Homo sapiens: one gene and its partners. The protein of the gene in region 2 purifies or fractionates together with the protein of the main gene of each other region. This does not show direct contact. Each region holds a gene or a part of one and is shown on either strand. Other genes may lie near its edges.

Region 1 (2,374 bases), on a different chromosome or scaffold from region 2:
TGTGAGGAAGGCTTAAATTAAGAAAGGACGTGAGATGATGACAAATAGAAAAGACAGAAAAGGCTAGGCATAGTGGCTCACGCCTATAATCCCAACACTTTGGGAGGCTGAGGCAGGAAGATAGCTTGAGCCCAGGAGTTCCAGACCAGCCTGGGCAACATAGTGACACCCTGACTCTATATGTGTGTATAATTAATATATAAAAAACATAGGGAAAAAAGACCTGTGTTATTCCAGAGGCATGGGAGAAGAACCAAGAAAAGGGGAAAGGCACATAATGAACACTGTGTCTAGGCACAGTGCTACATGTCTACACGGTGCCATTTAATCCTCAGAATGACTGCTTTTCTTTTTATAGCTGAGAGTACAGGAGTGAACATTTTCATATATAAGAGCAATGTGCTATGGGAGTCTCTTCAGTAGGAGGTTGGCATGACTTGGCTTCACTGATGTGGTCCCAAAGCAAACAGACTAGACAGGCAGACCAGTCACATACCCTGCCAGCTCCGTGTGTGCCAGCATCTGCCCTGTCTCTGCCAGGCCTTATCAGGATTACCCAGTGTTTGTTTGAAATTTTGCTAGGTCTCAGAAACAGAAAGTACGCCAAGGATTTTAGGAAAATCAAAAATTTTAATCTTATCATCTTTACATACAACAAACATGTCAAGACCCCCTATTGTCTTTGAAAAGGTCCCCCCTCCCCCGCCAAAATCTGTAGACCATAAGTCTTGGCCTACACTGACCTGGTTTGTAAAATATCTTCCTCTGTGTACTTTTCCCTTCAGCCTCAGGCTCTTGGCTGATTCGCTCACAACAGAAGCAGCTTGGCTTTCCTCTGGAAGTACCAATTTGAAAGCCCACCAGCCTGCAAACCTAGAGTGTATTCTCCACCCCTGGGTCACAGAACTTCGTTCTCCCCGGCTCTGTAACCCAAGGACCCTACAGCCTCTGAGGCCTAACACCCAAGCTCTTCCTTGCAGAAGAGCTGAGATGCTAAGGAGACCATCTGGAGTGTCATAATAAGCCCTTGGGATTTGCTGAGCTCCCACATGGCTTTCTTCAACCACCTGGCCCACTTTCTTCAACCACATTCCACTTTGGAATGCGTGTCTTTAAGGCACCAAGTGATCTTAAGAATGGGCTCTGTTTTTGAATTCAGCAATCCAAGTTCCTATCTATCTCGGTGGGACCTCCAAAAAAAAGAAAAAGGATTGGCTTGGCTTCTAATGTAAGGCCTGCCTTTTACACACCAGTTGTGTGTTTGTTAGTGGCTGCTGGATGCCAGTCCACACCCTCAAACACCTCACAGTCCCAAACGGGGTGCTCCTACAGGTCCCAGGGTCCTGTTAGTGGAAGAAAGGCAGTTCCAGGAAGTCTTCCTCTAGCCTTCATGACAGGAAGTAGTTAATCCTCTGGGAAATAGACTTGCAGCCCTGGGAAGAAAAGAGTTGTTCCTCCTTGGGGACATACACCATCATCTGGGCTATTTCATCCAGTGTCTCTTCTTTATACAGGAGCTCCTGGCTCAGGAAGGCATCCCGTGCACACAGCCTCACGTGACGGTACTCCAAAGGCAGGAAGGGGATGAAGTAGTCAATCAGGTTTTCCTTCACAAGACGGCTGTGGCCAAAGCCATTGTCTGAAAGCAAGACCAAAGTTACATGGAGTCTGACCTAGGACTGAACCTAGCTGGAATTTAGCGGGGGTGGGGGTTGCTGTTGGTTTCTTTGAAACAGGGGCTTGCTCTGTCAACCAGGCTGGAGTGCAGTGGTGAGATCTGGGCTCCTTGCAGCCTCCACCTCCTAGGTTCAAGGGATCCTCCCATCTCAGCCTGTGAGTAACTGGGACCACAGGCGTACAGCACCACACCTGGCTAATTTTTGTTTTTTTTCTAGAGACGGGGTTTCACTATGTTGGCCAGACTGGTCTAGATCTCCTGGACTCAAGTGATCCGCCCGCCTCAGCCTCCCAAAGTGTTGGGATTACAGGTGTGAGCCACCACACCTGGCCCCGACTGAAGGGGCTGGGTGAGGTTGGATCTCATCTCTCAACTCCAGGAGTGCTGTCTGCAGCGTATGTCAAGAACTCTACAGCTGTGTCTCCTTTAGGTAAAGTCTTGCAGTGAGACTCAGAGTCTCAGGCTTCAGAGACCACTGCGCCTGTTCTTGGGGCCAGTGCAAACTACTATTTCCAAGCATTCCCAGAAAAGGAGCTCAGGCTTTCTTACCACTTTTCTTGTGCCCACCCAGGGTTGACAATGTGAGATGATTATAGTCTGCCCTCTGTGTTCCCAAGTACCCTGTCTGCTTCATAAACACACATTCCAACAAACACATTAATTATCACCAGCTGTGGCTCTCACCAGAGGCATATT
Region 2 (3,660 bases):
TAGTGTGTAGAAAATGCTAGACATTTCCTCAATGTATGTTTATTATTCTACTTCCTAAGTAAAGCTACTTTTAAAATAGGTTTGGTTGCTTCTTGAAAGATAGTGTTACAGGAACCCTGCCAAAAGTACATCGAACAGGTGCAGTTTCTGGACATTCCTTGAAGCAATGTGGTCATCAAATAAGTGGTAAGTTGTGAATTTCTTAGCTACATTTGAGTTAATATTGGATCTCGCTTAGAACAGCTTTTGCTCAAAGTTTGTACTGCTACAGCTTTTTGGAAGGCATCACTCATAAAGATAGGAGATGGGGCAGTATTCTGGACACAAAAGAGGGACCCATATTCATCTGGACACTTCTATTGTCTTTATAAATCAACACATACTTAATGAGCCTCTATTATTTATGAGGTTAGCGCTCAAGTGTAAGATTTGCAGAAAATGAATCCAAATAATTGTGTCTCGTTTCCAGATAAGAATTTTTAAGAAAACACAAGGGAACATCTCTCTCAAGTTCACTTGAGGGTAATTTTTACATCAGTGATTCTCAACCAGCAGTGATTTTGTCTCTTCCACTGGGGACATTTGACAATGTCTGGAGACATTTTTGGTGGCTACAACTAGGGAGGATGCTATTAGCATTTACTAAGTAGAGGCCAGAATGTTTGAATGCTGACCAACATTCTACAAGGCACAGGGCAGTCGTCCACAGCAAATAATTTTCTGGCCCAAAACGTCAACAGTGCTGACATCAAGAAACTCTGTGATATACCACTAGGCCCAAATTGAAGAACTGAGTTCTGCAAATCTTGCTAAGAATAATACTTCCTAAAGGAAACTTGAGGACTAGGATGCTAGAGAACTTTGATTCTGACATCTGAAGCTACTGATGTCTTGGGAAACAGTTTCCAATGCTATCCTAATAAATTTAAGACAAATGAACTATTTCTCAAACATGACTGGGACTGATAAGAAAGTGAAAAGTGCTGAAAAGATTCAACTGATGGGTTGTCAGAATCTTAAAATAACTGCTGTTATTCTATGTATGACTATATATCATTACTATTTTATTTTCATTATGCACAATTAATTTTGTAGGTTCAAATTTCAGATGTTTTTAAATTTGTCATCCTTTCCTCCCTCATTGATATCACCTCTTCAATACGTACACACTTTGAGCCTGCTGTTTGCATTTTAACCAGTTATCAAAGGATGGCAATGCCTTCATTATAAATGTGGGCCTGACTTAGCCAGTATAATAGGTGTAGTCTACGTGAGGTGGAGTACATTTCCTATTTTAAAAGATCAATTTTTATGTTAATCCAATTTGGTATAAATTATTCGAGTAAGTGCTATTTCTGATTGTTGTATCTTGTAGCAAAATTTAAAGAAAAAGTAATTTGTGCCTTTCTCAATATTCCTGTTATTGTTCATGTATTCTAAAACTCACTGTTACTCACTTAGCTTGCTTTTAATGTTTTTTAAAGTGAAAAATTGTTCCCAAGTACATAAAATCTCTACACTCAAGAACAATTCTAGTCAAAAGCATTTAGAGCTTCCGTATGAACACTTAAAGAGTTTTTATTTGTAAGAGTCGCATCCCAACTCTTAGCCTGTTCTTTTCTCACATGCAGAAAAATAGGAAAGAGACTTCGTTTCCACAGTCTGCAAATTCCTGTGTTTAAGAACCACAGTGAATAATCCACCTCCCTGCCCAACTCATCGTACTGTCATATAGTTTTCCTGACAGTTTGTGTATTTTCTGTCTTTCCCACCCTTAAATTTAGTTTTATGACTTCAACCATACTTCTTAGGAGTGGAAAGGTATCTGTAGTAGATTATGGTTTATTCCACATAATCTTGGGGAATAAAACTTTAAAAAAGTATACAGTTTATACTTCTGGTTACATTACTTCCTTAACCAAAAGTCTAACCAAGAAATTTGAATCTTTAAAAAAAAAAGAGGCCGGGCGCGGTGGCTCACGCCTGTAATCCCAGCACTTTGGGAGGCCGAGACGGGCGGATCACGAGGTCAGGAGATCGAGACCATCCTGGCTGACACGGTGAAACCCCGTCTCTACTAAAAATACAAAAATTAGCCGGGCGTGGTGGCGCGCGCCTGTAGTCCCAGCTACTCGGGAGGCTGAGGCAGGAGAATGGCGTGAACCCGGGAGGCGGAGCTTGCAGTGAGTCGAGATCGCGCCACTGCGCTCCAGCCTGGGCGACAGAGCGAGACTCCGTCTCAAAAAAAAAAAAAAAAAAAAGAGCCTAATTTTGCTTCACTGTCTGTGAAAAGAATTATCTGTATCTTTTGCATGTAAGACAAATCTCAATGAAAAGGGTGCTTAAATAGAAGTTAACACTATTTTAAAGCAAGAATGGAAGTGGTTTCATCATGCGTAAACAACAACTCTCCACATTTTGTAATGATTGATCTGGATGCAATTTGTCATCAGACAGGAGAAGTCGAAAGCAAAGAAATAACACTGGGAGATAGAGAAGCTCTTTCATTCAATGCGAAAGGTCAAAGGCACATCAGTTTCTTTAATAATGCAAACCTCAGCACACATTATCAGTGTCCTCATTATTATTGCCTTGTTTATTTCCCACTGCTCATTGATAATTTCAACGTGAAATTTACCTGTATTGCTGCATGCATCTTGCAGTTTAAGAAGTGAAGTAACCCAATTTCAAAGCTAGTGCTTTAGGGAAAATATTGGATTGTATTTACTTCAAGCAGAGTTCGATAATTTATGTACATAATAAAAATTTTAAATCCCTTAGTTAATATAGCAGTTGCCAAAACTGGGCTATTATCATTCTAAACTACCAACCCAAATGGTAGTGGGTATCTAATCTACCTCTAGAAAGAAAATGGACTGTATTTGCTCTATGTATTTTTCTTGTACAGCTTGCCATCGAGACATTTATAAAGGAGTTGATATGAGAGGAGTCAATTTTAATGTGTCTAAGGTTAGCAGTGTTGAAGAATGCCAAAAAAGGTGCACCAGTAACATTCGCTGCCAGTTTTTTTCATATGCCACGCAAACATTTCACAAGGCAGAGTACCGGTGAGTACAATTCAAGGTGTGTGTTCTTTGTATTGGTGCCTCCAGGATTTCACTGTATTCTTCTTAACCTCTTTTGTTCCCAAACTAAAAACCAAACAGGGCTTTTATTCTAACCACTTTCCTCATTTACTTACTCTATTTTATTTTTTTATCTTTTATTTATTTATTTATTTATTGAGATGGAGTCGCGCTCTGTCGCCCAGGCTAGAGTGCAGTGGCGTAATCTCGACTCACTACAACCTCCGCTTCCCGGGTTCAAGCGATTCTCCTGCCTCAGCCTCCCGAGTAGCTGGGATTACAGGCGTCCGCCACCATGCCTGGCTAATTTTTGTATTTTTAGTAGAGTCGGGGTTTTACTATGTTGGTCAGGCTGGTCTCGAACTCCTGATCTTGTGATCCACCCACCTCAGCCTCCCAAAGCGCTGGGATTACAGGCATGAGCCACTGCGCCTCGCCCTTCATTTTTTAATTAAATAATTCATTTAATTTCATTTGTTTCTCTACTCTTTTCCCCTGGCATGTAATTGTACCGCATCTTCAAAGCCTGACATCCTCTTCCCCTACTTCTCCAAAGCTGATTCTTGCAGGTCTT
Region 3 (3,660 bases), on a different chromosome or scaffold from region 2:
AAGCGGCAGCCTAGATGGAGCCCTAAAGATGCCCAATGTGGATCATAAGGATGGGAAAGGAAACAAGGACTCAGCATAAGATAAAATAAGTAGTTCAGCACTCCAGACTTGAGCTTGGATTTTGGCTTTGCCACTTAACTTTGAGATCATAGGCAATTTACTTAACTTCCCTAAGCTCCTCTGTAAAACTGGGAAAATAGTAGTACTAACCTACAATTCTTGTGAGTTTTAATTAAGATAACATCTGGAAAGTGTTTAGCATGATGCTTGGCAAGTAGTAAGTTTTCAATAAATGTCAGCTCTGAGTAAGCAAACCTGGCTATAGTGGTCTCTTTCTGGTAGCCGAGCAGAGTGGATGGCATGCTAAAAGTGTAAGGTGTTTCTATACCTACCCAGGATTGATTTAATGAAGTCAAGAAGCAGTTAAAGGAGGCCAGGAAGTAACCAATGTATTCTATCTGGCTTCTATATTCAGGAAACGAATAAAAGCGAGGGCACCCCTACCTCCCCTCACACACCCCCCAAAAAACCCTGAAGTCAATAAATATCCTACTGGCACTATCTGTACTGGCAAAATGCAGAAGAGCTTATTATTGCACTAGCTAAGTAAGCCCTCTGGATCATTCATTCATTCACCCATCTATTTATTAAATGCCCATTATGGGCAGACACTGATGAGTCTAAGGAATGGGTTCAATTCATTTTAGGTAATGAAGCCAGAGAGACATCCTCAGACTTCTGGAAACCTATAAATCTTAGTTATTTTTCCTGCAAATTACATTGCTCAATTTAATGTTTAACAGTATCTGTCCAAAAGACTAAATCACAATGTTTCCTCCTGTGAAATGATTAATCTGGAAAACCTCAAACTGGGCAGTTTATGACTGGATATTTTTATGTGGTTCCAAGAGCAATGTTTTTCATAGCAAGCCTCAGTGGCTCTACAAATACACACACATACTGTTCTGTTTCCAGTATCTATACCCAATAGAGCAGGAAAAATAAAGGACCTTTTATGTTTTGGTGAACTTGATCCTTCCAGGGTTGAATCTAGTTCCTTGGTTTTGACTTGATGCCTTACTTAGAAGCCACCAATATATTATGTAATGGTCTTATGGTCACTTGTGTTCAGGTACTTCCTAAAAGTCCTTATATTCAAATAGGAAAGGGCTTCAGCTCAATGTTACTTACTGATAGAGATTTTTCACAGACTGTTCAGTGCTAGTCAAGCTGAAATATGGTCCTTCTGACTTCAGATCATCAGCCTCCCCTCGGCAGAAGCCCACCCGAGCTGGAAGCTGAAGCTGGACATTGTAAGACTCTTTGGGGCGGGTTCCAAGGAACTGCAGGCCGTTGGCAGGATAAAGAAAGAGGGCGTAGCTATCAGACCCATCAGATGCCAAAACTGCCTGGAAAGTGTTCAGCTGTGAGGAAAAAAAAAAAAAAAGAGAGAGAGAGAGAGAGAAACATCCTGTAAAAAACAAATAAAAGAAGAAAGAAACAGAATGCAAGCAAAGCATCATAACGTGCAAAGAACTTCCCCTTTTTCAGGATTCCTCCAAATTGTTTTTAAACATAACCTTCTTTAAAATTTCCTCTTCAAGTTAACAATATAATTTCATAAGCAATATTATTTATTATTGCAAATACCATTTGTCAATTTAGATTAATAGTTGAAATACGCATTGGTAAAACATAGGTTAAAAAATATATACTTTGTAAGGTTTCAAACTTCTCTCATGTAAACTCTTTCAGAGCTAAGAGCAATCAGCAAAATTAACTTGTCCATCCTGCAGTCACTGCCCTAGTTTATAACCCTAGGCACTCAGCATCTCTCATTTGCATCATTCATTCATTCATTCATTCATCCATTTATTAAATGACCACTATGGGCAGGCACTGTGTTAGGCACTAGTTGGTCAAAAGGCCTCCTTACTGTCTCACAGCATCACTCTCTTTCCTCTTCCATCTACCCTTTCATACGAGCATCAGGGTTATCCTCATTTCACAGATGAGAAAAAGACACAGGGGCTAACAGGTCTTCCTCAGGTCAGGTGGCAAGTATGTGGTGGTGGGCCAGCCAGCTCTAGAGCCCACACCCTAGGACACCCTAACCCCTCCTCAACATGGCATTCAAGGTGAGTTGTAACCTGGCTGCATACGTCCCTCCCAGGCTCAGTTCCACTGCATCTTTGTCAGACTATTTAATAGTCCCCATTTGTACCATGTCCTTGGATGCTTCTACACTTTGTTCGTGGTTCCCTGTGCCTAGAAAGCCTCCTAACCTTCAAATGCTGCCACTCAGAGGTGTTTGTGATTCCCTATAGAATAATTTCTGTTCTCTGAACCTCTGTAACACCTTTATGGGCATCTCTAGTGAGCATTCACCTCATTATGCTTGGTTAGTTGTTTATATGTTTGTAAACACCATTCATTTATTCATTCATACACTAATTCAAACAGCCAAGTGTCTACTTAAGCACCAGACGTTATGCTTGATGCTGAGGATGTGAAGGAGCAAAAGACAGGCTTTGCCCAGGAGAGTCTCACGGTGTAGGACTGGGAAACAGCCATGGTTGAAATGGTAGGAGAGTCACTGGAGAAGGTGGTAGAGGCCAAGAGCCGGGGTGTGTGTCCAGGATCTCAGGGTGGAGGTTGGGAGGTGTCACAGAGGCAGCTGGTGAATGTTATAAACACTGCAGGAGCCAACACAGACCAGAGAGGGACCAGGAGCCTGAATCAGCTGCCAATTCAACACCCAGGTCCTTATAGGATCACTCCTTAACATTCTGTTTACCCTCATATTTTCAACAAGATGAGATTTTTGCCTTTACCTTCATTCAGCGACCGCTCCTCCTAAAGATCTGTGAACAGTGCTTGATTCTCAAAAAGCTGTTATGTTTAGGCTTCTGAAACTGTCTCTCTCTCACTAAATCACACTACTTTTACAATTTAGTAAGGAACTGGGAAGGTATTTTTAAAACACAACTTACTTCACAAATAATGTGACTCTTAGAAATATTATTTACTGGTAAGTATCATTACCTTTCCATTCTGCTAGACAGACAAACTCGGGCACAGAGAAGAACATCACATTTCACTGAAGGAAACAGCAAGGAAGGAATGGGCTCTTCCCTTTGTTCTAAGTCTACTCCCACAGTTGTTCTAGCTCTTTTCTAATGTTAATTTTTCCTTTCAATGTTTAATTTCAAAGTAAGGTTTTGAGGTTTTGCTAATAGGATAAAGAAATATAGATGTAACACACTTTTCAAGAGAAAATAAAATACAATCAGCAGTTCTTTTAGTTCTCTAACCCAGAAAAAACAACATCTTGCTTTGCTTTTTTCATTCATTCAATTCACAAAGTAACAGGTGCCTAGTTTATTTGTTATTGTTCCAGTTGTTGATTGTTCATCAGCAAAGCTTGACTTTTCCAAAAACAAAAAGCAAGAAATGTTTTTAGAGCTTCTCAATACTAGGAAGCCACAACTACTGCCAAATATAAACAAAGGCTGTTCTGCCTCATGTCTATCCATAAGATAGTCGACATCATCAACTAATGTGGACTCAATAACTTCAGAGTTATACATTAGTCAGAATAAAGAAAAATCAACTAGGGAAAGAAAAGTACTAGAGGAAGGAGAAAAAACCCCATTTCAA

Evidence for each region.
Region 1: the proteins of KLKB1 (region 2) and TOR3A purify together in Homo sapiens (affinity purification with mass spectrometry; one large-scale study listed by BioGRID and IntAct). This does not show direct contact.
Region 3: the proteins of KLKB1 (region 2) and NID2 purify together in Homo sapiens (affinity purification with mass spectrometry; one large-scale study listed by BioGRID and IntAct). This does not show direct contact.

Annotation. Positions count from the first base shown.
Region 1 is NC_000001.11:179,094,233-179,096,606, reverse strand, and holds the end of TOR3A (torsin-3A precursor), read right to left. Parts: intron 1,640-2,374; coding exon 1,389-1,639; 3' UTR 611-1,388; downstream 1-610.
Region 2 is NC_000004.12:186,233,873-186,237,532, forward strand, and holds part of KLKB1 (plasma kallikrein isoform 1 preproprotein), read left to right. Parts: intron 1-79; coding exon 80-186; intron 187-2,908; coding exon 2,909-3,068; intron 3,069-3,660. UniProt on the Homo sapiens protein: Participates in the surface-dependent activation of blood coagulation. Activates, in a reciprocal reaction, coagulation factor XII/F12 after binding to negatively charged surfaces.
Region 3 is NC_000014.9:52,058,933-52,062,592, forward strand, and holds part of NID2 (nidogen-2 precursor), read right to left. Parts: intron 1,425-3,660; coding exon 1,192-1,424; intron 1-1,191.